4 linked regions of the Homo sapiens genome follow. The protein of the gene in region 1 interacts with the protein of each later gene in a pairwise test. Each region holds a gene or a part of one and is shown in the gene's direction. Other genes may lie near its edges. The genes, in order: PLD1, LIAT1, ASCL4 and SPIRE1.

What was found.
Region 2: the proteins of PLD1 (region 1) and LIAT1 interact in binary tests that used the Homo sapiens proteins (3 or more experiments, as listed by UniProt).
Region 3: the proteins of PLD1 (region 1) and ASCL4 interact in binary tests that used the Homo sapiens proteins (3 or more experiments, as listed by UniProt).
Region 4: the proteins of PLD1 (region 1) and SPIRE1 interact in binary tests that used the Homo sapiens proteins (3 or more experiments, as listed by UniProt).

The regions. Positions count from the first base shown.
Region 1 is NC_000003.12:171,807,246-171,815,172, reverse strand, and holds the start of PLD1 (phospholipase D1), read left to right. Parts: upstream 1-4,689; 5' UTR 4,690-4,774; intron 4,775-7,927. UniProt on the Homo sapiens protein: Function as phospholipase selective for phosphatidylcholine. Implicated as a critical step in numerous cellular pathways, including signal transduction, membrane trafficking, and the regulation of mitosis.
Region 2 is NC_000017.11:405,570-413,324, forward strand, and holds the start of LIAT1 (protein LIAT1), read left to right. Parts: upstream 1-4,755; 5' UTR 4,756-4,773; coding exon 4,774-5,077; intron 5,078-7,559; exon of another isoform or gene 7,560-7,578; coding exon 7,579-7,755. UniProt on the Homo sapiens protein: Participates in nucleolar liquid-liquid phase separation (LLPS) through its N-terminal intrinsically disordered region (IDR). May be involved in ATE1-mediated N-terminal arginylation.
Region 3 is NC_000012.12:107,770,392-107,777,395, forward strand, and holds ASCL4 (achaete-scute homolog 4), read left to right. Parts: upstream 1-4,312; 5' UTR 4,313-4,827; coding exon 4,828-5,346; 3' UTR 5,347-6,253; downstream 6,254-7,004. UniProt on the Homo sapiens protein: Could be a transcriptional regulator involved in skin development.
Region 4 is NC_000018.10:12,458,884-12,466,159, reverse strand, and holds part of SPIRE1 (protein spire homolog 1), read left to right. Parts: intron 1-1,201; coding exon 1,202-1,292; intron 1,293-2,666; coding exon 2,667-2,809; intron 2,810-6,231; coding exon of another isoform or gene 6,232-6,405; intron 6,406-7,276.

The DNA.
Region 1 (7,927 bases):
TGTAATTGTGTTATTCCAAACAAATATTCATTTTTAAATGGCTTTTTGCATGTTTGCTTATTTACTAATCATGCTAGTTTGCATAAATGTGCAAATCCATGAAAACAAATAAAATTATAAAAGTTATGTAAACATTATCCCATTACTGGATATATACCCAAAGGATTATAAATCATGCTACTATAAAGACACAAGCACACGTATGTTTATTGCGGCACTATTCACAATAGCAAAGACTTGGAACCAACCCAAATGTCCATCAATGGTAAACTGGATTAAGAAAATGTGGCACATATACATCATGGAATACTATGCAGCCATAAAAAAGGATGAGTTCATGTCCTTTGTAGTGACATGGATGAAGCTGGAAACCATCATTCTGAGCAAACTATCGCAAGGATAGAAAACCAAACACCGCATGTTCTCACTCATAGGTGGGAACTGAACAATGAGAACACTTGGACCCAGGGCAGGGAATATCACACACCGAAGCTTGTCGTGGGGTGGGGGGCTGGGGGAGGGATAGCATTAGGAGAAATACCTTATGTAAATGATGAGTTAATGGGTGCAGCACACCAACACGGCACATGTATGCATATGTAACAAAACTGCATGTTGTGCACATGTACCCTAGAACTTAAAGTATAAAAAAAAAGGTTATGTAAACATTGAAAATACAGAAATATTTCAAAAAAGTCATTAGATAGGGGGAGTGGGATCCATTTGGGCTTGTTGGACATGAAAAAGCTTCACAGGGACTGGCTATGGGTGACTGAGAAGACTTATCTTTGGTATTGCAGGGGGAGCTGTAGGCGTCAGTGTGGGACCTTTATAGTCACATGCTAGGCAGCTCACAAGTCGACCGTTGCTGGAAAAAATGATGAAACATACAAATGGGCCACAGGAAGCTGAAATGAGGATACAGAAACACAATGCTCTGCACATCTTGGCAATATCTGCTGTGTTGCTGTGTTCCTCATTCTCTCTTGAGATTTTTGGTGTTAACCACTGTCATTTTTTTACAAAAAATTTGAGCCTCACTAATGACACTGTTCTGATCTTTCAGTGAGTCACTGTTATGGTGGTTGAAGTGATTTATGTCATCAGGTAACTGGGGATACAACATCTTGCTCTATACTCCATGTCTCTAGAGAAACATGTGCATTGGTTAATTAACATTAGCAATTAGATGTTTGCGAATGAATGAATGAAATGAGTAGTTGCTAATCCACAGACTGTCAGGTGGACTGAAGGGCACAGAAGTCATACAGATTATGTCAGTGAGGATTATTGGGGACAAATAATGAATGCAGACTTGCTCTCTGAAGGAAAAGGGCACCGGGGCCTCACAGAATCAAGACAAAGTGGAAGAACAGCAGGAACTAAGGAAGCAACAAAAAGATTTAAAAAAAAGACCCACAAAACCTAGGAAGTAAAAGTTTCCTAGGTTTTACTGGTCAGGGTAAAGCTGCTGATGGGCCGCTTCTGTCTCTGTTCAATAAGCTCAACCTCAAAGATCACCGGCTCCCTCATCCCCTGAGATTCAGTCCACCTGGCCTATAGGGTAAATGGAATGGTGGTGGGAATATGGAAGAAGGATCTGACCTTCACTTTTGAGGTTACTGCTTGAAATTGCTGTCTTGCCAGGCCTATGCCTATTTGGGGAGAGGTAATTTTCTATAAGAAAATGGAACTGTCAGAAAAGATGATAGATGTTGGTATCCCAAAATGACTAGATGATCTGGATGGCAGTGCTTGTATCAAATGTACCACAAGGGAAAATCTGGGGGAGCACCATTTGTATGTCACTTTGATAAAATAGTTCTGTTTCTGTTGAAAGCATTATTGCAAATTAACAAGAAACTAATTTACCATAGAAAAAGAACAGGTAATGGACATGAATAGATCATTTTCAGTAAATGGTACAAATAATAACATGAAAAAATCGTGTTCAGCATTACTGATTATAAAAAAGTTGATTAAAACAAGATATGATTTTGATTCGTGACATTTTCAGGTTATAAGCAAGGCAATATTTAATACTGGAGGGTATTTTTGCAGCATCACACAGCACCTTAAAAATGTTTCTAAATGCTGATCCAGTATTTCTACTTTTAGGAATCTATCCTAAGGATGTAGAGATCTTGACAAAGATGATGCAACGTAGTGTTCATTCTAGCATGATTTGTAAACTGCAATAAAGTCTGAAAATATCCTAAAACATTTGATAAATGATTGTAATATTCTTCAACCACAGAAATGATATCTTAAAGAAAGTTTAATAACAGTAAAAAATAGTCAATTTATAAATACTTAGTGAGATAAGGAAGATTCTAAACTCTGTAAAGCATGGTGTTAATTTTATAACAAACCTCTGGGCATAGAAAAAATAAGGAAATATACTAAATGCTAATAGAGAGTGTGTGTGTGGGAGTTATAGGTGATTTTAATTAAAAATGTTTTTCTGTGGTCTCTAAAACATAGATGTAAAATTTTTTTTCTAAAATATAGATGTTAAAATTATAAAAATGAACATATATGTTTTTATTCTCAGAAGAAAATAGAACAATTAAAAGGATTTCAAATACCACTTTGACAAAAATGTCAAGTGCATATTGAGATGAATGTATAGCATGATTACTTAGTCACTGTTTCTTGACATCTTTGAAGATATGAAAGAGTTGGAAAGAAAAATCACAAAATCTCTCAGGAAAATAAAATAATTACATACAAAATCATACTACTTCTAAAATTCATGTTTGGGAGTCCATAAGCTTCAGTTCATCTCTAAACAACATATGGCATTTCCTATTTTATTCCTCTATCCCAGGGAGGCAGAAATTCAGTTATTGTAAGGGCACTTAGATAATTTTCTTTCTTTCTTTCTTTCTTTTTTTTTTTTGAGACAGAGTCTTGCTGTGTCACCAGGCTGGAATGCAGTGGTGCAATCTCAACTCACAGCAACCTCCTCCTCCCAGGTTCAAATAATCCTCCTGCCTCAGCCTCCCGAATAGCTTCGATTACAGGAACCTGCCTCCACCTCCGGCTAATTTTTGTATTTTTAGTAGAGCCGGGGTTTCGCCATGTGGCCCAGACTGGTCTTGAGCTCCTGACCTCAGGTAATCAACGCGCTTCGGCCTCCCAAAGTGTTGGGATTACAGGTGTGAGCCACTGCGCTTGGCCTTGATAATTTTATTTCTAATTAGATTTAGTAGAAAGACCTATTGTTGGAGGCAAGTGCCAAATGTTTTCATAGTGACACTTAAGAATTTGGGATGCAATTTTATAGACTGCTGCTTCTCAACCAAAAGCATTATAATTTCTAAAGACAAGCTTGTAAGAATGCAGTTACGTGTGTGCACAAGACTTATCAGACCATCTGTGACTAATAAAGCTTGAGAAAGAGGGGAGGAGAGAGGGTATTCTGCCTTCCAGTAACATGCTTGTCTGAAACTTACTAAACTCCTCTTAGGCAATACTCTGCTCAGAGAGTCATGTGTTTAATTGTAAAAATCTGTCAGTATCATAGGATTCAAAAGACATCAATCATTTATGTCAACAAGGAAAGAGTGAGGGCTGTGTGACTCTTCTATCATTAGGAAAAGATGTGCTCAAGAGACAAAAATGTGGTCTAAGGAGGGCTGAGCAACTGTAGGTTACAGGAAAACTGAGTTCCAGACTATAATTTGGCCCCCCTCCCCTAATTTGGACTGGTATATTATATTTTTCATTTCATGCAATGCCATGTGTGCAGTAAGACATTATGTAACTTGGTCAGTCGCAGTTGTGTAATATCCACTAAATGCTTTAAAGTGGCTGACGTTATTAGCAGTTTGGTGCATGGGGAGGCCATTGCTTCCCCTGGCTTTGGCGGGATGCAATATCGTGTAATGAGGTTGGAACTGGCCTATATTCAAAATTACATTCCCAAAGGGCTGCTATTCAAGCCACATGACAACTGGTTCTCTTTTTCTTAAGACTTTATTCTAAGTGGACTGAAAACAGCAAAATTGCCGTGTTTGAACGGTTCCATAGGTGGAATGGGTCTTTTCCCTGTTTTGCTCCCAATTTATTATTTTATGCTAAGATTTCTGAATTATAACCAGTTTTAGAGACATCGGGACACAAATTCCCGTCCCCCTCCATCTAAGCTGTGTGACCTCGGGCTGGTTCTGAGCCTTCATTTCCTTACCTGTAAATTGGCGATAACACTTCCCTAAGGAGGTGCAAGAAGGCTTATAAAGACTCCAGCAAAGCTCCAGTCTCTTAATTATGTCACCTCAGGCAAGTTATTTAGCCGTTTGATTTGCTGATTCCTTACTTATAAGTTGGACCAGTTGTGGCTACTATCCGCAGTAGTCGAAGAATAGATATCATAGGCAAAGCTCCGGGAAAGGTGGCTGGTCCTTGGCGGCTCGAGAGGACCTGATAATGGTCCTAATAGCGAGCATTCCCTAGGGTGATGCGGTCGAGTTATGAAACTTTGGGAAAAGAGAACAAGGAACGCGGGCGATCAGAGGCCCAGTCGCGAGACCTGCCCCGCTGGGGCCTCCAGCCGGCACCGCGACGCCCCGGGACCTGGCACCGCCTCGCTCCACCCCTGCGAATCCGGGGCGAATCCGGGCGGAGAGTTCCTGCCGGCCGCGCAGCGCAGAGCCCCCTCCGGCCCGCCCTCTCTCCCTCCCTCCCGCTGAGCTCCAGCTGTGCCAGAGGCACCCGAGCCCTGAGAGTCCGCCGCCAACGCGCAGGTGCTAGCGGCCCCTTCGCCCTGCAGGTAGGAGCCGCGCCGAGACCCGGATCACCGGGCGCCCGTGGGAGCCGGGTTTCCACTGCCCTCGCCCTCCGTCCCTCCTCCGCCCAACCTGGGCAGCTGGCCGCTCCCCGCCCAACTTGGACGGGATTTCAGCGAGTGAGTCGGCGGCGGACTCCCTAGCGATCCCCAAGGGCCTCCCTCGCACGCCTTCGGGTGGAATTCCTGCAGGGTGAAAGCTGACAACTCTGGCACGCACTTTTGCCGCGCGGGCGGCTGCCTGGAGCGCAGAGCCGCGCAGGCTCAGGCTGAAGCCCAGGCGTCCTCTGCAGGATGCACCGCCTCGCCGCCACAGGGCTTCGGGTGCAGTGTGTGTGGTGTCCCCAGGTCATCCGGGCGCCCTTGGTTCGGGTGCGCGGTGGCATGACTGGGCTGGTGGGGGCGATGGGACCGGCATCCCGTACCAACCAGGAAGTGCCGCGTCCCAAGGCTTCGAGCCCAGCCCGCAGAGCACGGTCCTGGGGGTGTGATCACAGCTGCTGACCGCGGCTCCCGCCGTGTGATGTGACCACTCGGAGGTGGGGCGAGGGGGCCGGGGGCCAGCAGCAGGGAGTGTGTAAAAGGTCTTCTTCCTCACAATACGATTGAAGGTGTTTGGGACGTAGGGCTCAGATCCAGGAGTGCCGTCCTCCAAGCCTTCCATAGGATTTTGTGACGCCCTTGAGAACCGCCCTTGTAGACTCAGTCCTGAACTACCGCCACGCCTGTATTTGCTCCTCCTCATCTCGGATTATTGCTTTCTTTACTTCCTCTGTGAAGCACTAAATACTAGTAGCTTTTTAAGAACAGACCACAACAGTTTCTTCGTTTGACCATTACTAAGTCTGCCTCCAAAATGGGGAGTTCCGTTAACTTTATCAGCCAGCCCTGCCAATTTTAGTTAAGATAAGCCTTCGTGGGCCTCCAAAGGCCTCTGAGAGACTAGGTACCCAGAGACCTCTGAGGTATGTTAAATGGTTTAGTTCGTGGTGGTGCAATGAAAACTTAAAGAAGGAAAGGAATCTGCAATTTGAACTGTTAACAGACCCCACATTTACACACTGCCTATTTGAATAAGAATCTCTTTCAGTATTAAATGTTTTGTGACACACAAATGAATTTGTACACAGTCTTTTAGCTTGAATTTGTAGACAGCCTTTAAATGTTGTTTGGGGATCTTTGGACTAATTGTATAAGCGCTCAGTCTGGCTTCTCAAGAACCAGTACAGTTAACAATCCATATAAAAAGTTGGAGTGCTGCCTGGGCGCGGTGACTCACGCCTGTAATCCCAGCACTTTGGGAGGCTGAGGCGGGCAGATCACCTGAGGTCAGGAGTTTGAGACCAGCCTGGCCAACATGGTGAAACCCCGCCTCTACTAAAAATACAAAAATTAGCCAGGCGTGGTGGCACACGCCTGTAATCCCAGCCACTCGGGAGGCTGAGGCAGGAGAATCGCTTGAACCCGGGAGGCGGAGGTTGCAGTGAGCCGAGATGGAGCCATTGCACGCCAGCCTGGGCGACAGGGCAAGAATCTGTCTCAAAAAAAAAAAAAAAAAAAAAAAAAAATTGAATGCTAAGGCTTTGAGGAAAAAGTGTCTTTACAATGTTTGTCCCTGATGACAGAATAATTATGAACTATAGTAAGCGCTGTACAATGCTCATTTAGGTTTGTAGACTTACTTATAACCAGGTAGTGGGGAACCCGGCTTCTTGGAAGTTGTATGTTTACTTAGTGTTTCTTAATTAAAATTACAAATTTTATTTACCTTTAACTCTTATAGGTAACTTTTATTTTTGTTACAAAGGAAAAGTAGGACTGTCATTATTATTATTATTATTATTTTTTGAGACGGAGTCTCGCTCTGTCGCCCAGGCTGGAGTGCAGTGGCGCGATCTCGGCTCACTGCAAGCTCCACCTCCCGGGTTCACGCCATTCTCCTGCCTCAGCCTCCTGAGTAGCTGGGAAAACAGGCGCCTGCTGCCACGCCCGGTTGATTTTTTGTATTTTTAGTAGAGACGGGGTTTCACCGTGTTAGCCAGGATGGTCTCGATTTCCTGACCTCGTGATCCGCCCGCCTCGGCCTCCCAAAGTGCTGGGATTACAGGCGTGAGCCACTGCACCCGACCCTATTTTTTTTTTTTAATAATTTGAAATTTTATTTTAGATACAGGGGGTACATGTGCAGGTTTGTTACATGGACATACAGCATGCAGCTGAGGTTGGGGGTACAACTGGTCCCGTCACCCAGGTGGTGAGCATAGTACCTGATAATTTTTTAACTTTTGCTCTCCTTCCTCCCTCCCACGTCTAGTAGTTCCCAGTGTCTATTGTTGCCGTCTCTATATCCATAAGTACCCAATGTTTACCTTCCACTTATTAGTGAAAACATGCAATGTTTGATTTTCTGTTCCTGCATTAATTTGCTTAGGATAATGACCTCCATCCGCATCCATGTTTCTACAAAGGACACGATTGTGTTACTTTTTATGGCTGCATGGTATTCTATGATGCATATGGACCACATTTTCTCTTATCCGGTCCATAGTTGATGGGCATCTAGGCTGACTCCATGTCTTTGCTATTGTGACTAGTGCTGTGGTGAACATATGAATTTGTGTGTGTTTTTGGTAGAACAACTTATTTTCTTTTGGATATATACCCAGTAATGGGGCTGCTGGGTTGAATGGTAGTTCCGTTTTGAGTTCTTTGAGAAATCTGCAACTGCTTTCCACAGTGACTGAACTAATTTACGTTCCAACCGACAGTGTATAAATGTTCTCTTACAGGATGTTTTTTTAAAAAATTTTTTTTCTCTTATAATTTCACTTTTGTTGTGGTAAAATATGTACAACATAAAATTTACCATTGTAGCCATTTTTAAGTGTACATGTAGTGGCATTAAATACATTCACATCGTTGTGCTACCGTCACCACCATCCATCCACAAGACTCTTCATCTTTCTTACAGGGTTTTAATAACATTTTAATGATAATGGTTGTGTTGCAGGCTTTAGTTTTATCACTAAGCAAGGTTTGAGTTCCTTCTCGTAGCTTTAGAGAAATGCACCTTTTAAACTTTTTTTTTTGAGACAGGGTCTCACTCTGTTGCCCAGGTTGGAGTGTAGTGGCACAACA
Region 2 (7,755 bases), on another chromosome or scaffold:
AAGTCAAGATGATGTGGTATTGATCAAAGGATAGACAGAACAACAGAACAAAACAGAGTCCAGAAATAGATTGACAAACACATAGTTAACTCATTTTCTACAAAAATACCAAGTCAGGCTGGGTATGGTGGCTCATGCCTGTAATCCCAATGCTTTGGGAGGCCAAGGTAGGAGGATCACTTGAGCCCAGAGATTTGAGACCCGCTTGGGCAAAACAGTGAGACCCTGTCTCAAAAAAAGAAAAGAAAAGAAAAGAAAATCAGAAATGACCAGCTGTGGTGACTCACGCCTGTAATCCCAGCACTTTGGGAGGCTGAGGCAGGTGGATCACTTGAGGTCAGGAGTTTGAGACCAGCCTGGCCAAAATGGTGAAGCCCCATCTCTACTAAAAATACAAAAAAAAAAAAAATTAGCCAGGTATGGTGGCACGCACCTGTAGTGCCAGCTACTCAGGAGGCTGAGGCAGAAGAACCACTTGAACCTGGGAAGTGGAGGTTGCAGTGAGCCGAGATCGTACCACTGCACTCCAGCCTGGGCCACAGAGTGAAACTCCATCCCAAAAAAATTTTTAAAAATCGTAATGAAAAGTACCAAGTCAAGTCAATGGGAAAAGGAATGTCTTTTCAATGGAAGTTCCTGGAAAAACTGGAAATCGATTTGGGAAAAAATAAATGTGACTCCTATATGTGACTTTATTCACAAAATCAATTTGAGGTAGGCCAGGTGCGGTGGCTCACACCTATAATCCCAGCACTCTGGGAGGCCGAGGCGGGCGGATCACTTGAGGTCAGGAGTTCAAGCCCAGCCTGGCCAACGTGGTAAAACCCTGCCTCTACTAAAAATACAAAATTAGCCTGGCATGTTTGTGCATGCCTGTAATCCCAGCTACTTGGGGGCTGAGGCAGGAGAATTGCTTAAATCCGGGAGGCAGAGGTTGCAGTGAGCTGAGATCACGCCACTGCACTCCAGCCTGGGCGACAAGAGCGAAACTCCATCTCAAAAAATAATAATAAATTTGAAGTAGATCATGAACCTAACCTAAAACCAGAACTATAAAGCTTCTAGAAGATAGCATAGCACACTGTCTTTGCAATATGGGGCAGGCAAAGCATCCTTGGACACAATACAAAAAGAAAAAACTGATCAAATGAATTGAAAATTGAAAAAAATTATTTATCAGAATTTCAAATTTCTGCTTATCCAAAGACACCACATTCAGAAAATGGATAAGTTACAGACCTGGAAAAAAAATCTTTGCAGTCATAAAGCTGACAAAACACTTATATTCAAGTTGTGCAAAGACATCAACAACAAACAACAAATCAACAATAAACAACCACATTACAGAATGGCCAAAAGACTTCAAAAGACACTTAAAGATATACAAATGACAGGCCGGGCGCAGTGGCTCACACCTGTAAACTCAGCACTTTGGGAGGCCGAGGCGGGTGGATCACCTGAGGTCAGGAATTTGAGAGCAGCCTGGCCAATATGGTGAAACCCCGTCTCTACTAAAAATACAAAAATTAGCCAGGTGTGGTGGTGCATGCCTGTAATCCCAACTACTCAGGAGGCTGAGGGAGGAGAATTGCTTGAACCCAGAAGGCAGAGGCTGCATCGAGTGGAGATTGTGCCACTGCATGGAAGCCCAGACCACACAGCAAGACTCCATCTCAAAAAAAAAAAATATATATATATATATACATATATATATATATATACACAAATGACCAGAAAGCACTTTCAAGAGTTCTTGACTTCGTTAATCACCAAGGGAATTCAATTCAAAACCACAGAGAAATACAACTTCTTACCCACTAGAGTGGCTAAAATCAAAGGCTGATTTTTCAATGGGTAATGGGGACTACTAGAGGGAGGAGGGGCTGGAAGATGTGGACTGAGAAACTACTGTTGGGTGTTGTACTCACCACCTGGGTGACGGGATCACCCATACCCCAAACCTCAATGTACTCATGTACATTGTACTCATGAGTCATGTACCATCACTCAGTGTACTCATGTAACAAACTTGCACATGTACCCCCCGAATCTAAAATAAAAGTTGAAATTAAATAAAAGATAAAATACCATTCCATATCTTTTTAAAAAGACACATTTGGTTATCTACTGTTGCATAACACATCACTCCAAACCTTCGTAACTTAAATAACTACAACCATTGTATTTTCTCTCACAGCTTCTTTGGGTCAGGAATTCAGGAAAGGCTTGTCTGCTTGGGGCTGGCCTGGGGTCTCTCCTGCTGCTGCTGCAGGACGATAGCTGGATGGGAAAAGTGGGGGCTGGAGGAGCTGAGGCATCTTTCTCTCCATACATCTTAGAGGCTCTCCACGTGGACTAGGTGGGGATTTATCAAGGTGTGACAGCCTTGGGGTCCTCAGACTTCTCAATGGGAGGCTCAGGACTCTACAGCAAGCACGTCATGGGCTAAGAAGATGGATGGATGCTGCATTCCCTTTAGGACCTAGCCTGAGAAGTCACACAGAGGCACTTCTGCCACATACTATTGGTTACAAGCGAGTCAACAAACCCCTTAAATTGAAGGAGAGCGGAATGAGACTCTGCGTCTTGCCATGGGAATGGCAAGATTCTTGAAGAGTATGTGGGACAAGAGATATTACTGCAGCCAGTTTTATTTTATCATTTTATTTTATTTTGAGATGGAGTCTTGCTCTGTCACCCAGGCTGGAGCACAGCAGTTTTATTTTATTTTATCATTTTATTTTATTTTGAGATGGAGCCTTGCCCTGTCACCCAGGCTGGAGTGCAGTGATGCAATTTCAGCTCACTGCAACCTCTACCTCCTGGGTTCAAGTGATTCTCCTGCCTCAGCCTCTCAAATAGCTGGGATTACATGCACCCACCACCATGCCCAGCTAATTTTTGTATTTTTAGTAGAGACGGGGTTTCTCCATGTTGGCCAGGCTGGTCTCAAACTCCTGACCTCAAGTGATCCACCCACCTCGGCCTCCCAAAGTGCTGGGATTACAGGCGTGAGCCACCATGCCCAGCCTCTGCAGCCATTTTCAGATAATACAATCTGTGGAGGGTAAACCTAGAAAGAAAAGCAGGTGATGCATCATACCAGGCCTTGTAAGCCACACTTTGTTATTTTTTTTTTTAAGACACAGAGGCCGGGCGTGGTGGCTCAAGCCTGTAGTCCCAGCACTTTGGGAGGCCGAGGTAGGCGGATCACAAGGTCAGGTGTTCGAGACCAGCCTGGCCAATATGGTGACACCCCGTCTCTACTAAAAATACAAAAAATAAAAAATAAAAAATCAGCCAGGCGTGGTGGCACGCACCTGTAGTCCTAGCTACTAGGGAGGCTGAGGCAGAAGAATCACTTGAACCTGAGAGGCAGAGGTTGCAGTGAGTCACGTTCACGCCACTGCATTCCAGCCTGGGCAACAGAGGAAGGCTCTGTCTCCCAAAAAAAAAAAAAGAGAGAGAAAGTCTTGCTTTGTTACCCAGGCTGGACAGCAGTGGTGCGATCTCGGCTCACTGCAGGCTCAAGTTCCTCCACAAGTGCCCCTCAGCGCAGCTGGTTAATTTTTTGTAGAGATGGGGTCTCACTACGTTGCCCAGAATGGGCTCAAGCGATCCACCCACCTTGACCTCCCAAAGTGTTGGGACTACGGGTGTCAGCCCTGCACAGAGCCCCACAAGAGTTTAGATCTTGATGTAAATTGTGATGAGGAAGCAATGGAGGACTTTTTGGCTTTTTATGTTTTGTTTTTCATCACTGGAGACTTTTAGCAAGAGAGTGAACGGTTTGGTTGTTTTTAAAAGTTTGTTCTAGCAGCTGTGCGGAAAAAGAGTTCGTGGGGAAGGTTTGAAAGCAGAGACCATTCAGGAGAGGACCCAGAAGTCCCAGTGCCAGACACGGCAGTCGGCCCCAGCCTGGGTAAGGGACAAGGGAGAGGGTAGGGGACACGGAAGCCCACCAGGTTTCCAGCCAGTCCAGCGGTTTTGTTCACTAAAGTGGAAAACCATGAAGAAGTAAGTTTGTTTTGGACACATTGGCTTTGAGAGTCCAGGGTAGATGTACGAGGCTGAAACTCAGGCAATAAAAATTGAGGGGAGAATACACAGCATTTAAAAAGGTACAGGAGGCCGAGCACGGAGGCTCATGCCTGTGATCCCAGCGATCTAGGAGGCCGAGGCGGGAAGATCGATGGAGCCCAGGAGTTCGAGACCAGCCTGAAACCAAAAATCAAAACTCTTAGCCAGGCGTGGGGATGGGAGGCCAAGGCAGGAGGATCGAGGCACGGGACTGGACGAGATGAGTGTCAGCCCAGGGATTTAAAATCTCTCTGCCCACCCTCCCCTTCCTGCGGTCAACTGTCCAGATTCCAACAGACAAAAGCAAGCATGGGCGAACCACCGTGCGCCGCGGTCCCCGACAGAAGCACGCATGCGCACACCTCTGTGTGCGGAGGTTTCCGACAGACGCACGCATGCGCACACTTCTATGCGCGGAGGTCTCCGCAGACAGAAGCACGCATGCGCACATCGCTGTGCCGGTATCGCCAACAGATGGAAGCACGCATGCGCGCACCGCTGCGTACCTAGCACTCCGACAGATGTACGCATGCGCACAACGCTCTGTTCTCGAGATCCCCGACAGAAGCACACATGCGCACACCGCTGTGTGCCAAGGTCGCCAAAAGACGGAAGCACGCATGCGCACACCGCGGTCCGTGGGGCACCGGGCGGAAGCGTCCTGACTGCGCAGGCGCAGCAGGGGTGGTCGCCATGGAGACGCGTGGCCCTGGCCTGGCGGTCCGCGCTGAGAGTCGCCGATTAGTCGGCATCGGGCCTCGGGCGCCCCCGGGGCGGGTTGGGTTGCAGCCCAGCGGGCGGCTGGACCGCCGCGGTGGGGCGGGGACAATGGGGTACAAGGACAACGACGGCGAGGAGGAGGAGCGGGAGGGCGGCGCCGCGGGCCCGCGGGGGTCTAGACTGCCCCCCATCACAGGCGGCGCCTCCGAGCTGGCCAAACGGAAGGTGAAGAAGAAAAAAAGGAAGAAGAAGACCAAGGGGTCTGGCAAGGGGGACGGTAAGAGGAGCAGCTAGCCCGGCTGCGTCAGCTCCGGTTCCCTGGAGACTCTTTGGGGACCCACCCCCCATTTACCCTTCAGACCGGAAACAGAAGCTCAGTGGTCCCGGACCGAGGTCCTCCTGCTCCCCACACATGCCCGTCAGCAGCACGTTGATGCCCCAGCCCCACCCGTGGAGACCATCCACCAACTCTGCGGTCCCTTAGCCCCACACAGAGACCCCTACAGATATCCACCATTCCTAAGAGCCTTCCAGCCCCACACAAAGACACCCTCTCAACTTCCTAATCCCTCAGCCAAAACTGGCAGTCTTAAACGTCTGCGCCTTCCCCACAGAGGCCCTCCTCACAAGACACTTTCCCCACCCCAAACACATTGATGCCACATGAAAGGCCCTCACTCTCATGCACAGAGAAGGGCAGACTCCTGCCTCCCCTCCTCCCACCCTCTTGCGTTAAGGCTGCCTGCCTGTGGATGCGCGGTAGACACCCACACCCACAGACGTGTGTATTAAAGGTCCTCGCTGCATGGGCTCCCCCTCGCACCCACCAAGGGGCAGCCTTGGACTGCACAAACCCCATGACACCAGTCACTGTGACATCCTCCTATAATCCCTGACACCCTCAACCACTCCCCGCTTCATATCAGTGTAACACCCACAGTGAAACTAAAGGGCGGGGGACACCCTCAACCACTCCCCCCACCTTCTATCAATGTAACACCAACAGTGAAACTAAAGGGCGGGACGCAGTGGCTCACACCTGTAATCCGAGCACTTTGGGAGGCCGAGGTGGGAGGATCACTTGAACCCAGGACTTCCAGGCTGCAGTGAGCTATGATCGCACCATTGCACTCCAGCCTGGGCAACAAGCAAGACCCTGTCTCTCAAAAAAACAAACAAGAAAACTAAAGCACAGATCCCCCTCATGCACACACATTCCTAGTCTACACACACAGACTGTTAATACGTTATCCATTCGCGTGTGTAGTCATATGCAGGCAGGAATTGCAGTCTCTCTCAGGGACACCTTCACAAACACACATACCCTACCTGCCATAAACCCCAGTCCCTACATCTCACCAAGCTCTTCTTGTAGAACCCCTACATTTCTTGACAAGGGGACTGAGCACCCACTTTGAGGAGAGAGAGCACAGCAGTGACAGAGAATGCAGGTGCCCGTGAGTGCTGTGAGGCCACTGTCGCCCGTGTGGTCCACCTCAGTGGCTTTGGCTGTCTGGGAGAGGGCTCTAAGCTCCAGTTCTGGGGCCTGGCCCTCTGTGGCAGAGCTGGCACCAAGGCAAGCAGGAGGCAGAGTGGCAGCCTCGCCCATATGGACCGTGCAGTGTGGGAAGGGAGCAATGGGAAGATGATAAGTACTTCTCAGGCGTAATACAAAGGCAAGAAAATTCTGCAGTTCAGGTCAAGAAGCCCTGTGTGGCTGGGCACATGGCTCACGCCTGTAATCCCAGCACTTTGGGAATTCAAGACCAGCCTGGCCAACATGGTGAAACCCCGTCTCTACTGAAAATACAAAAATTAGCTGGGCATGGTGGCAGGCACCTAGAATTGCTTGAACCTGAGAGGCGGAGGTTGCAGTGAGCCAAGATTGTGCCACTGTGCTCCAGCCTGGGTGGCAGAGTGAGACTCAGTCTCAAAAAAAAAAAAAGCCCTGTGTGTATCTGCAAAAAGAAATTTGGCAGTTCATTGTCCTTTTGGCGTAGCTTTTCACTGTAGAAATTACAGTGACATGTGCCTCATACCATCAGCAGGGGGCACCAGATAGTTTCCAGGGCGTAGCAAGGGAGGGAAATGTCAAAAGATGATTTCTTTCTCTCTCCCCTAAAATAAAAGGACGAGCTGATGAAAGAACCACAATTTGTAGCATTTTATGTGCATGTTAAATAATTCTGAAGTGCTATTGATGTTAAAAAAAAAAATCAGTACAAGCCATACAGCAGAAGTATTTCTGGCTTGGCATAATACTGCTTTCAGTCAAATTTAGGAAGCTTTTCTGTTGTTTTCCGTTCCTTCCATCATAAAGTGTCTAGACTAGGGTAGAGTCACAGACTCCCAGAACTGGGAATGGCCGTGGTGAGCACATGGCGAGGATGGATGAGGGCAGCACGGCCCAGTGGAAAGAATGGGGCATTGGGGGCCCAGCCTGCACTCAGGTCCCAGCTCTGCCACTCGCTCATGACATTGGCAAGTTCCTGAACCTTTTGGAGCTTCGGTTTCCTCACCCGAAGAATAGGGCCGATCGCCTTTACCCAGACGGCCTGGCTCAGACTGTGTGCTCAATGAATGGTTCCTCCTGCCCTGAAATGATTTCAGCAAAATCACACAGGCAGGTGGGCACGAGGCTGGTGGGCTTGGCAGCCTGAGCCCTGGGTACGGAGGGGCCCCCATCCTCCTCTTCCATCTTGGGTGATTTTGGCACCATCCCCAGCAGGCCAAGGTCAGACATTGCCACAAACACTAACCTGCTCATCTACTCAGCAGATAAACATCAGAGTCAGAGCCTGAAGAGCCAGCCGCTTTCTTCCTCCTTTCATGACATCTTAAGTCCTTGCAAAGAGCGTGGCCCGAAACCAGAGCACAGACAGAGCAAAGTGGAAAAGAAGCACCTCCCTTCTGACTCCTCCACCGTCAGCCTCCCCGACTTTGCCGAAATAGAGA
Region 3 (7,004 bases), on another chromosome or scaffold:
ACTATTTTTTGTATTTTTTTGTATTGATGGGGTCTCCCCATGTTGCTCAGGCTGGTCTTAAACTCCTGGGCTCAAGTGATCTGCCTGTATAAGCTTCCCAAAGTGTTGGAATTACAGGTATGAGCCACTGCACCTGGCCCAATTTCTTTCTATTTAACACAGCCTCAGTTAGAATCTCAAGTGGTAATTTCTTCCTCATGGATATTAAAAGTGCACGTTGTGTTCTTTTGTCTTCTTTTCCAAATTTGGGAAATCCTTGCCCAAAAGTTCTTCCAGATGAATTTTAGAGTCAGCCATTCATTCTCCAAGCCTTGAGTTTGGTGCCTCTTCATAATTCACACCAAGGTGTTATATAGACAAGAGGAGGCCTTGTAAAACTTGCGGTAGGAGAAGGTAGCCTTAAACAGGGGAGAAAAGACAAAAGCTAGAAGGAAAGGATTAAAATATACCTGCCCATCTGCCCCCTTTCATGAGCAGACCCAAATAGGACTACACAAACCCAGCCCAGTTACTCTTGGCAGGTTAGCATATGTGTTACGTGATCTAGCCAGCCTTAGGACAGCTTTAGGTTGGAGAGAATGTTTATCTGGGTCAAAACTGACTGGAGAGTAATCAGGAGTCAAAACTTCTTCTTTTGATCTCTTATGTAAAGAAGGTAACCCCCACCCCATACCCTGCACATCATGTGAGTAAAACAGTCCTATTCCTACTGGAAAAGCCACTTATTTTCAATGCTTTTGTTCTTTAGGAAAGGCTCTGTCAGCATTCTTTGTGACCATGCAGTTAGGTCATTATATTACTTGGATCCTATAAAAAGACCACTGTAGGATCAGGATTTGACCAGTTTTTTTTTTTTTTTTTTTTTGACGGAGTTTTGCTCTTGTCGCCCAGGCTGGAGTGCAATGGCATGATCTCAGCTCACCACAACCTCCGCCTCCTGGGTTCAAGTGATTCTCCTCCTGCCTCAGCCTCCCAAGTAGCTGGGATTACAGGCATGTACCACCACGCCCAGCTAATTTTGTATTTTTAGTAGAAACGGGGTTTCTCCATGTTGGTCAGGCTGGTCTTGAACTCCTGACCTCAGGTGATCCTCCTGCCTTGGCCTCCCAAAGTACTAGGATTACAGGCATGAGCCACCGCGCCCGGCCTTGACCAATTTTGATTGTGGTATTAGCAGTGAGAGAGAGAGAGAGAGAGAGAAAGTCTTGTAGATACTTCGTCCTCAGAGACAGAATTTACAAGGAGCCAGAAAACCTGGTCTAAGAGTTCTAATTTCTAATGGTAAATCTGTTGGTTTGGGCCAGATCAGGGGGTGTCATTTGAACTTTCTACACATTTTATCTTATTAAGTTTCACTGGGTTATAAAAATAAGAAAGTAATAGTGTTGGTATTAACAAGTTAAACAGTAGAAAGATTTATAAAGAAAAATGAACATCCCCCCTTCCTCCCCAATGCCACCCTTTCTTTTTAGGCAACCAATGCAAAAAACCATTTAGTATGTGTCTTTCTATTTCATTCTCCATGCTCACAGAAACACATATAAAGGACATACACATCATGTAGAATTGTTTTTATGTTCCTGCTGCATATGTTACTCTGCAATTTGCTTTTTTCACTTAAGACATTGTGGATATGTCTGCAAGTTCTTACGTACAGATTTTACTCATTATTTTTAATAATAGCATAATATTCTAAGATTTTTAACTCTTTTCCTATTGATGGACATTCAGGCTGTTCAGGCTGTTCCCTTTTTCTTCTTCTTCTTTATCTATTTATTTATTTTTTGAGACAGAGTCTCGCTCTGTCGCCCAGGCTATCTCAGCTCACTTCAACCTCTGCCTGCCAGGTTGAAGCAATTCTCCTGCCTCAGCCTCCCAAGTAGCTGGGACTACAGGCATGTGCCACCATGCCCAGCTAATTTTTTTGATTTTTAGTAGAGATGGGGTTTCATCATGCTGGTCAGGCAGGTCTTGAACTCCTGGCCTCATGATCCTCCCACCTCGGCTTCCCAAAGTGCTGAGATTACAGGCGTGAGCTACTGTGCCCAGCCTCGCCTTTTTTTTTTTTTTTTTGAGACTGGGTCTTGCTCTGTCACCCAGGCTGGAGTGCAGTGGCGTGATCTTGGCTCAGTACAACCTCCGCCTCCAGGATTCAAGTGATTCTCCTGTCTCAGCCTCCCAAGTAGCTGGGATTACAGGCACCTGCTACAACGCCTGACTAATTTTTTGTATTTTTAGTAGAGACAGGGTTTCGCCACGTTGGCTAGGCTGGTCTCGAACTCCTGACCTCAAGTGATCCACCCACTTTGGCCTCCCAAAGTGCTGGGATTACAGGCATAAGCCACCTTGCCTGGAGTCTTCGTTTTTTTAAATTGCTACAAATGTTGCAATAAAGATTATTGTACACATAAATAGGTATTGCTACATTTATTTTGGTAGGACAAAACGGCACAGATATCTGAATCAAAGGATGTGATGTGCACTATTAATTTTAACAGTTTGTTTAGCTGGGATGTGGAGGCACAAGCCTGTAGTCCTAGCTACTCAGGAGGCTGAGATAGGAGGATCCCTTGAGCCTGGGAGGCGGAGGTTGCAGTGAGCCGAGATCGCATCACTGCACCCCAGCCTGGGTGACAGTGAGACCTGTCTCAAAATAATAATAATAATAATAATAATAATAATAATAATAATTTTAATAGTTTCTTGAAGCAATTTATGCTCCCACCCTTTCCTCAAATCCTTGCCTCCCCTGAATCTTAGCAATCTTTTAAACTTTTGCCAATCTGAGAAGGAGAAATGGCATCTCAACTGTTCTTCCTTTTGCTCTCTTCCAATCTAGTCCTCAATCTGCAGACACAGTTATCTTTTTTGAAACACAAATCTTCAAATGTCACCTCCCTGCTTAAAATATTTCATTATCTTCCTGTCACTCTTAAAAGTTAAAATCTTTGACATGGCCAAAAAGCACCTTGTGGTATAACAGCCTACCTGCCTGAGTGGTGGACTTTTCTCCTAATAGAAAGGGCTTTCTCAATTCTACTGAGAAATTGTGATGATATATTAGGCTATTTGCCAGTACAAACCTCATCAGGAGCTACAACTTTTAATTTTTCTTTCTTCTTTTTAAAAGATGGGGGTCTTGCTATGTTGGCCAGGTTGGTCTTGAACTCTTGGCCTCAAGCAATCCACCCGCCTTGGCCTCCCAAAGTGCTGGGAATACAACCTTGAGCCACTGCACCCAGCCAAGCTACACCTTTAAAAATGTGACTAACTTATACCCGAAAGGAATAATTATTTCTATTTTATTTGCCTTGTTTTTTGAGTTGCTTCAGGCGGATCATTTAGAACAAACAGGGAAGAACAGGACTTGCCAAACTAAAAAGAAAAACATGTTAGGGCAGCACCTTGTCTGCTGAGGAATAGGCAAAAGCTCTCATCATAAATGTAGGGGGTTTTTGCTTCTCTTGTTTTTAAGTAGGACTTTTAAAGTAGAAGACACCTTTAATGTACTGGTTTGCAGAAGAGGAAATCTGATTTTCAGTGTGATAACATATTCTTTGACGTTAACCAGTACAGTTGGATTTTTAATGACACTTTAATCTTCAAAGGTTTACCAACACGGATGGATTAATTATTCATTTTGGAGGGGTTGTGTCTTAAAAAGACAAGTCTTCAAAGACATCATCCTTTCTCCTTGGAACTTGGAGTCTCCACCTTTCAAATGTTGCTTTCCTGCCCCCAAGAGAGAAAATAAATGACATTTTTTAAAGAAGAAGAATCCAATGGAAAAACACTCTTTGCGCTATGGAAAGATGATGTCCTTATATCCTGGGTGAGATTAGAAGAGGAGGCTGGGAAGCAGTATTTAAGCTGTGTTTACAGTAAGCACTGTGAGAAATAACCGGCTAAGCGCGTTTGTTATTGTTCAGTCTTTTGATGTGCTTTTAAAAAGTCGCATCTCCATAAAACACCCTCAACAACCATAAAACAACATATGTTGGAACATAATATGCAGACCCTTATATTCTTTGCTACAGTCTGTATTTTTCCTATACCCTTCAAACATGCCTCATTGAGTTTTTAAAAGATTCGGTTTGGAAGAAGAAAAACCTCAAGCCTCGCCCCGGGTCTTCCTTGACTTGACACATTTTATAACCGCAAGAGAGCAGTTTTTCCTTTGATGAGGCTAAGACCCCAGAAATGAAAGAGCAAGTTTAAGTTTGCAAACACTCTAAAAGCTCCTTCCATTAGACCTGGTCGCGGGAAACCACAAAGGACAGTCAAGTGATTTTCAAGGAGAAAGCCTCTGGTCCACTTTCCCTCCGCCGCCAGATCTGCAGGTTCCTGGGAGGAGCTCTTCTCAAATCCTGAAGATTGCTAGGCTCTTGGCGAACGACTCATCTCTTGAAGACCTAGAGTGGTGGATTACAGGCATTGAAAAGCTTTTGGTGGCTTTGGAAGATGACTCTGGTGTGAGCTCACCTTTCCAGGCTGGGGGACCAGGCAGAGGAACCCCCTTTGTTATCTTCTGAAAGAAGATCAGTGGGGAAGACGGGGTTTGAAGTGTGGATTAGGAGATCCTACGTCTTTGCCTACCACCTCTGCCTAAATCATAAAAAGATCGAGGAGTGCAATGAACTTCAGGAATCATGCACCGTTTCCCTGAAGCCTGTCCAGGAACCTAACTTCTGGACCCAGAAACTTCTGCAAAGACAGACCCACTGAGCCAGGCAGTCTGCACCAGCACCTCTGCTTCTAAGATTCTGTTTCGTCTTCTTCTATTGAGAGATTGACCTCTTGAGTGATTTGTGTGCTTTCCGGCAAATGATGGAGACGCGTAAACCGGCGGAACGGCTGGCCTTGCCATACTCGCTGCGCACCGCGCCCCTGGGCGTTCCGGGGACCCTGCCCGGACTCCCGCGGAGGGACCCCCTCAGGGTCGCCCTGCGTCTGGACGCCGCGTGCTGGGAGTGGGCGCGCAGCGGCTGCGCACGGGGATGGCAGTACTTGCCCGTGCCGCTGGACAGCGCCTTCGAGCCCGCCTTCCTCCGCAAGCGCAACGAGCGCGAGCGGCAGCGGGTGCGCTGCGTGAACGAGGGCTATGCGCGCCTCCGAGACCACCTGCCCCGGGAGCTGGCAGACAAGCGCCTCAGCAAAGTGGAGACGCTCCGCGCTGCCATCGACTACATCAAGCACCTGCAGGAGCTGCTGGAGCGCCAGGCCTGGGGGCTCGAGGGCGCGGCCGGCGCCGTCCCCCAGCGCAGGGCGGAATGCAACAGCGACGGGGAGTCCAAGGCCTCTTCGGCGCCTTCGCCCAGCAGCGAGCCCGAGGAGGGGGGCAGCTAGCGAGCGCCCGAACTGGCCAGGACCCCCGCGCCCGCCGCACAGCGCGCAGCCGGGCGCTCAACCTAAGGTCCTCTTCGAAGGTGGTTTGCATTCTTAATCTGGCATCTTCTCCAGGCCTAAATCTTAAGAAAAAGAAATGGGTGCTGGGGTTTGGGGGATGGGGGAGTTGTTTTGACATTTGGGAATTTCTCCCCTGCCCTTATTGGTTACGTGCCTGCAACTTATAGGTGCTTATTAAGGAGACTCTTTTCCTATACTTCTAAAATGCAAACTGTTTCAGATTCTGAGCACCTCATTGTAAATACGATTATTCTAAAAACTCAAAGGGCGAGAACAACTGGAATTTCCCACCTTCCGTGGTGTGGGTAAATGGTATACATAAACATTAAACCTTAACCAAAGAAGAACTTTACCGCCACCAAAACAGAAACAACCCCAAACAGCCAAAAACAGTCCTTAAAAATGAGAGGAACATTTTCTTGCATTCCTTCCTTCGGGAATTGTATTCAAAATGTAATGGAAAGTAATTGTTGACCTCCTGCTTTGGGTGAAGGAGACTGTAAGCTGGTACTTGAGAACGAATTTGCCAGCATGTGCTGTTGTTGACTGTGTGAATGATGGTGCCAGGGAATCCGTGGCTTGGTACACACTGTTTCATCCAGTGGCCACGTGGAAGCTTTGTAGCATTGAGCAGATAGTAAAATATCTTAGAATTAATGATCTCTTTGGAAGAGAGCCCAGATTTGTATGAAAACTTGTTTTTCCTCTCAATTGTTTTGTCCACTGTTTTCTTCATTTTCCTTTTCTCTGCATACCCCCCGCCCCCCAACGTGTAGCTCTCCATCTAAGTTTTGGATAAACTGAAGTGGCACTGTGACTTTAAAAATAAAAAAGAAATCTACTTGGAAGTCCTTTTTGCGGGTTGAGCCAGATGGGGGAAAGATATGGGACAAGACGGATGGATTGAAGTTGGTACATTCTCAAATATTTTTATCACCATTAGGGCTTCCAGGTACAGTATATGGAAATGATGTAGTGACTTTGGCCATGTTAAAAGCCTTTTTAAAATATTGAATTTGGGTCATTTTTTTTCTAAGAAACAATTTTGAGTTCAGTAGATAAGTTAAATGCCTGCTGATGTATGAAGATCAACTTCCCTAAGATTGTTTTCTAATATGCCGAATTATCCTTTCCATGGAGGCAGCTTTGGTTTGTGGGGGAAGAAGGAGGGGAAATGGAAATGGACAAAGAGAACTAACAGTGGAAGTGCATCCTCCAGGTAGATTTCACTTAGATTTTATTACCCCCTTTTACAGTTGTAGCAACTAAGGCAGGCTATATCTTCAGTGGACATCTTTTATGTGCTAGGAATTTTGTTGTGGCTTTTTACATTTTGTCCTATTTAATTGTCATAAATTTGTGGGGTGGGTATGACAAATATTTTGTGATTAAAAAAAATATGAAGCTCAAAGAGGTTACATACCTTGACCAGTTTAGTGTTGCTAGGATTCCTTGAGCTGAGATCAAGTCCCGAGCCTGAACCCAAAGCCAAGGATTTCTTTCTCCCTTACCATGCTGTCTCTTGCTCTGTCATTTGCTAGCAGAGCAAATGTTGCTTCAACTCAGTTTTCTCACCTGTACAGAAATGTTTACAGAAG
Region 4 (7,276 bases), on another chromosome or scaffold:
CTCACTGGTAATAAGAATTTTAATTTTATTTGGCACGATGTAGACATTTTTCTTTTTCTTTTTCTTTTTTTTTTCTGAGACGGAGTATCACTCTGTCACCCAGGCTGGAGTGCAGTGATGCGATCTCAGCTCACTACAACCGCTGCCTCCCCGGGTCAAGCAATTCTCCTGCCTCTGCCTCCCAAGTAGCTGGGACTACAGGCGCGTGCCACCACGCCTGGCTCATTTTTATATTTTTAGTAGAGGTGAGGTTTCACCATGCTGGCCAGGCTGATCTCAAACTCCTGACCTCGTGATCTGCCCGTCTTGGCCTCCCAAAGTGCTGGGATTATAGGTGCGAGCCACCGTACCTGGCCCACAATGTAGACATTTTTCTAGACTCATATGACATTTCATGAAATGTTTATTTTTTCATCCATTCATTCAACAAACACTCATTACTTACTAAGTGATGGGTTTGGTACTGGACATACATCAGTGAGCAAGACAGACCCAGCATCTGCTCCCATGAGGCTGACAATGTATTACTTGTATAAATGTATTAAATATTTCCCTAATAATATTAACCACTGTTTTATTGTGTGCCAGGTAATGTGTTAAGCATTTTGAATGCATTACCTCATTTCATCTTTCCAATAACCCTATGGAAAAAGTGATATTAAATACCCTCTTTCACAATGATGAAACTAAGATAAGAAACATGCTCAGGCCAGGTGCAGCGGCTCACACCTGTTACCCCAGCACTTTGGGAGGATCGCTTGAGCTCAAGGCCAGCTAGGCAACATAGGAAGACCCTGTCTCTACAAAAAATTTAAAAATTAGCTGGGTGTGGAAGTGCACACCTGTGATCCTGGCTACTGGAGTCTGAGGTGGGAGGATCACTTGGGCCCAGAAGGTAGACGCTGCAGTGGGCCCAGATCACACCACTGCACTGCTACCAGAGCAACAGAGTGAGACCCTGTCTCCAAAAAACAGAAAGAAGCATGCTCAGTTTCACATCACTCTCATCAGGGCAGAGCCAAGGCACAAACCCAGACCTGTCTTGTTTGAAACCCCTTCTAGTTTGTCTTTTGCTTGCCTTGAACCTTTGACATACTTTGGTGCCTCATGTTAAAATAACTGTTTAATAATAAAATGTTATTACGTAGCACTAGAGCACAAATGTCTAAGAAGTCGATTTCTCCACCTGTACTTTGCTCAGGAAGAAACGCTGCACAAGTCGACCAGCAGCAGCAGCGTGTCTCCCTCTTTCCCTGAAGAGCCAGTCCTGGAGGCCGTGTCCACAAGGAAGAGTGAGTAGTTGTGGTGCTAAGAGCTGTAGTCGGATGTCTTACTACAAAACACACTTGACCTAGAGCAGAGATCCCAGAGCGCCCTGTGATCATCTAGGGTAGAAAGAACTAACTCAGGCATTTCACTGATCGGGAGATGAAATACTTATTTTCCAAGAGTGGCATCATACCAGGCCTCGGGGTCTTATGACAGAGCAGGCACATGTGTGTTTACGAACAATAGTCATGGGAAATATTATAAATCAGTTGTGTGTGTAGCGTTCTGTTTTGTTTTGTTTTAGATAGATTACCTCCTTGGCTAAATTTAAACCAGAAGCCCAACACAACCATATTTATTATCATTCCACCTACCACCCACACACACCCATCTCCAAAAACCTGTGTAGATAGTGAAAACACCTTTATAACTCTTTAGGAGATAGATTCTGAACACAGATATCTAAAGTTAAGGGATTTCTAAAGGCTTTTAATAATCCTTTTCATTTATAAGAACATTATGAAGTATTAAAAATTATATATTGGCTTGATTTCTCATACACAAAAATTCTTTAAGTAGTTTTATTATTTACACAGATTATATCAAAAACAGTAGGTACTGACTATCCACAATTGGATATTATAGGGACCCAATTGAATCACATAATGGATTTCTGTATCTTTTCTTGACTGTGGAAATTATATCTGTGTTTTCCTTTAGTGGTTTCTCATGGTGGGACAGTCTAAATAGATGGATCATATGTAACTTTGTGTTGACTCTCACTTTCCACACCCACTACATTGAAGCAGCTCTACTCTGTAGATAGAGTAGGAGGAAGCACTAAATAAAACTCTGGCACCATAATTTATTTCTAATGTTCTCCTTTTGTTTTCAAAATGGGAATCCAGAACCGTTCAGACACTAAAGCAGTCTCCTTTTAAACAGTCTTAAAATATTACTAGGCAGAGAAGGACAATGGTACAATATTAACATCAAAGCTGAAGCTTACTTTTTGCAGTTTAAATACAGTTTAATTTAAACCTAAGGACAAAATGTCTTGGTAAACATGTAGAAAGAAGGATTTTCCTTATTTTATCTTTAAAAAGGAGAATGTAAAAAGAGGGTACATTGAGAATTTTGGTATGATTTGGGAATCTTTCTGGCTACACCTAACATTTTTCCTTTTTTCTTGCTATTTCTGTAGCAAGTTTACTTTGCAAAGATTCTTCTGTAACAGCCCTCAGAGTCTACTCCTAAGGATTACCATTACCATCTTAAAATATCTCTCCAATGAAATAAATAATTCATCTTTGAATTACAGTGTTTGTCACAAATGTCAAAAGGTTTTGTGTTAGAAAATTCACAGTAAGTTTTATTTCATTTGGTTCAATCTTTAGAGCCTCCAAAATTCCTGCCCATATCATCAACACCCCAGCCAGAGAGACGGCAGCCACCCCAGAGACGACATTCCATTGAAAAGGAAACGCCTACTAACGTGAGGCAGTTCCTGCCGCCTTCCAGGCAGAGTTCCCGCTCTCTTGTAAGTACAGGAAAGACTTTGTAGTAACTTAGGGACCAGCTAGAAGACATAGAATCATTAGCTTTCTTATGAAGATGATAAGGAGAAAAAAACTTGCAAAAGTTAGAATGAATTTTGAATAACTTACTTAATAGCTAAAGAAAACAAACAGCCAGGCGTGGTGGCTCGTGCCTATAATCCTAACACTTTGGGAGGCCAAGGTGGGAGGATTACTTGACTCCAGGAGTTCAAGACCAGCCTGAGCAACATTGTGAGATCCCGTCTCTGCAAAAAAAAATAATAATAATTAGCCAGGTGTGGTAGTGCACACCTGTGGCCCCAGCTGCTTAAGAGGATGAGGTGTGAGAGGATCATTTGTGCCCAGGAGGTTAAGGCTGCAGTGAGCTATGACTACACCATTGCACTCTAGCCTGGGCAGCAGAGTGACACCTTCTCCAAACTCTATCCATAACCTAAACGAAACTTGACCAGTGTTTGTTCATTTTGAGCTCTTTTTTTTTTTCAAGAAAATTTATCAGTGGTTGAAAGTATGGATTATTATTAAAGAAATGCTTTCTTTCTTTCAAAGGCTATTAATCCATTTAAAAATTGTTAAAAATTGACCAAAAAAACTCTTAGCAAAATGACTACAGTAGGTGATCTTATTGAGGCAGAAGTACAAGCGAGGGAGAATTTTGATCCATTAATAACTACTGTACATTGTTTTCTAGTATGTTTTGTGATATTTGGGGCCAGTGGTGTTATTTTGGTTGAACTGGTTTATAGTTTTTGCTGTTTTCCAGAGACTTGCAGGTTCTTATAGTGGGTGCTCATTTCTCAGGACAGTGGGCAGCACACAAGGGTTTGCCAGGAGGAATTAGTAGATCTCCCAGCCAACAGAGGTCTCCAAAGACTCTTTTGTAGCGCCACTTGGCTTCTGAAATATTTGTAGGCAAGATGCACAGCTGTAATTAATATTCTACCCACAGTCAAATATCTAATGTGTTTTCAAATATTCATGAATAAAAAATAATAGAATATATTGAATACTAAGTCCATTTTTTAAGGCTGTGATGAATTATTAGAGTTTCAATTAAAGTAATAACAGATGGGAGATAATGCGATTATTGTGAAGACAGGGATTTTGAACAGAGCTTAGAATGTTAATATTTGGTCATTCATCTCTATGCCAAAACAGTGCAATTAAAGAACTAATGATTTTATGGCGATTCCTGATAGGATTCTTCTAGCTCCAGAATAATCACCAAAACACAGCTATTCGATTAAATATAGCCTTGTCAGTGACTTACCAACAAGAAAACAGAACTCTGACCAGACAGATTCAAACGTAAAAATCTAAAAATTTGTTTTCATGTGAATAAGTTATTGCTTTTACCAAAATATACAGCTATTATCACAACTTTAAAATATGTAAGAGGGTCCAGGCACAGTGGCTCACACCTGTAATCCCAGCACTTTGGGAGGCCAAAGGAGGAGAATCGCCTGAGGCCAGAAGTTTGAGACCAGCCTGGGCAACTTAAGAAACCCCTGTCTGTACAAAATTTTTAATTAAAAACTTAGTTAGATGTGGTGGCGCATGCCCGTAATCCCAGCTACTCAGGATGCTGCAGAGGGAAGATCCCTTGAGCCTAGGAGTTTGATGCCACAGTGAACTAAGAATGTGCCACTCCACCCCAGCGTAGATGACACAGCAAGACCCTGTCTCTAAAAATATATATACACACATATGTGTATGTGTGTGTATATGTGTGTGTATGTATGTATATACATATGTATGTACATACATATACACGCATGTATGTATATACATATGTACGTACATACCACACATATGTATGTACGTACATATGTACGTGCATACACACATATGTATGTACGTACATATGTACATACATACACACATGTATGTATATACATACATACACACACACACACATACATGTGTATAGGTAAGAGGGAACTTGTGGTTTTTTTCATAAGTCTAATCATTAGGGTATTCTCTTCTTCACTCAGCTTTTCCTAGAAGCCAGTCTATCATTCAGCTTGTAACTGGCCTTTATGTGATCATACAATGTCATTATTGAGGTTAGACTTAAAGTTTAAAATTAGCAATGTAAAGGAACTATCAGCTTAGCTACAAGGTAGTTTCAGCTTATAATAGAAGTTATGCTGAGACCTTCAGCTGACCCCAAGGGCCCATGACTGTGTCTGTTTCCTGTTAAAGCAGAGCTCTTAGTGTTGCGAGGTCAGGCCGTGCACTGTTTTTTTGTGGAGCAGGAAGGAGAGCAAGATAAACTAACTTGCAATCACTGAGGAAGGTCTCAGTGAGCAGGCAGTGGGAGAGCCGCTCTGCTCAGCACTGAACAGTGGTCAGATTGAGGGCAGGGAGCAGAGTCCACGCAGGCCTCCAAGCACCAGCAGAGACGAAATGATCTTCCTTGCTAATAGCTTATCTTGGGAAATCCATAAAATCATACCTTGTAGTAATGCCCTATAGCTTGGTAAGTATTGTTTTTATAAGTGTAATTAATTTTTAAATGTAGCTGCATTTTAGAAAACAAAGAATCATTTTGTATTTGTAACTCCTCAACTGAAAATGGCAGGAATGTTTTTATTGTTGATAATTTTTTTTTTTTTTGAGATGGAGTTCCGCTCTTGTTGCGCAGGCTGGAGTGCAATGGCTCAATCTCGATTCACCACAACCTCCGCCTCCCGGATTGAAGCGATTCTCCTGCCTCAGCCTCCCAAGTAGTTGGGATTATAGGCATGTGCCACCACACCCGGCTAATTTTGTATACTTAGGAGAGACGGGGTTTCTCCATGTTGGTCAGGCTGGTCTCGAACTCCTGACCTCAGGTGATCTGCCCGCCTCGGCCTCCCAAAGTGCTGAGATTACAGGCGTGAGCCACTGTGCCCGGCTGATAATTTTTATTTTTGTTGTATCTCCCTCCCTTTTCTTGTGATGTTTAAAATGTCATTTTTTTTCATCATTTGGTCAAATAACCGAGGGCAAATGCCCATCCAGTCTAAAGGCACCTCGTGTTGGCAGTACCTTCCTGGGGCAGGTGCAAGTGGCTGCCTGGCACATGTCCCCATGCTTTCTCAGGCACAGTAACGAGTTGCCTCTATCCTTCATCACAACAAGCCCCACTGAGGAAACTCAGAGTGTTTGCAGGACCCTAAATTAGAAAAATCCTTGCTGTGTGAACGCTGAGATTCTCCAGGAAGGACTTCGTGGTTTCATCACTGATTTATACGTGTGGATGCAGATGTTCGCACGGACTGTACCAGCCTCATGGTGTTTTTTGTTTTGTTTTCCTTTTGTGATCTGTAATCACTATGTGTAGGTCACTTGTGTTCAGCATTATTTTCTCCTTTTCTTTTCCCCCTGCCATTTTCTTTTTCCCTTATCTGTTGTTCAGGTTCCTAGGATAACCAGTGTATGGCCAAGGACGCCTTTTCGACCACTTTTTTCTACCATACAAACAGCTTCTCTGCTCAGCTCTCATCCTTTTGAAGCAGCCATGTTTGGGGTAGCAGGGGCTATGTATTATCTGTGTGAGAGAGCTTTTACCAGCAGGTGGAAATCCTCAAAGGTTGGCCTCTTTCTGCTGGGTCTGGGATTATTTCATTCTCTGTATCTCTGACGGTGACACCTCAACTGTTGCGTTCTCTGAGAATTAACCGCTTAGATAGCACTTTGCTTCCAATCATTGATTCCACCCTTGTGCAGGATGCACCGATCATGCCGTGGTCTCAGTTGAGGGAAATAACTGGGAAAGGACAACAAACTCAAAATGCAGCATCTGATGAAGGGGACCTGTGGGTGTTTGTCTCCTCGGGTGACCTAATTGTATAGCAGAGTCAGTGCTGCCACCTTTCTCCATGTGCAGCAGGCACTCTGAGCCCGTGGGGTGCATTCCTCCTAGGGCCTCCCCCCACCATCAGAAGAGTATTTGCTCACTCATTCCGTGAGCAGAGCATCCTCCTGCCAGGCCAGGTAGCCATGGTGGACTCCGCCCACCCACAGACACCTGCACAACCAGGGCATGGGCTCAGGAAACCTGTGTGCTCCCATCACCTGTCATGAAGCTGTGTTATGACAACCAGGGTGTGTACGTCACTTCTCTGCAAAGAGAAATTTCAAGTTTCCTTTTTAATGATGTGGCTATTTTAAATAATTCTGCATTATATTACTGTTTTTTGAGGTTTTTTTACACAGAATAATATATCATTATTTGAACCTTCACAATTCTACGTGAAATAAAAAGCTCTACGACCATATTGAAGCCTCTTCTGCCACCACGTAGCAGGTGCTCAGAGCAGCCTTTGTGCTACAGTAGGCAGGGCCTGGCTCTCTAAAGCCTTGGATTTACTAACCTTGTCCTTGACAGATGACCCCGCAGCTGGTTTCTTTGTTACTCTTTCTTAGTCATCTTGATATGGAAAGGAGACTCAATGTAAATA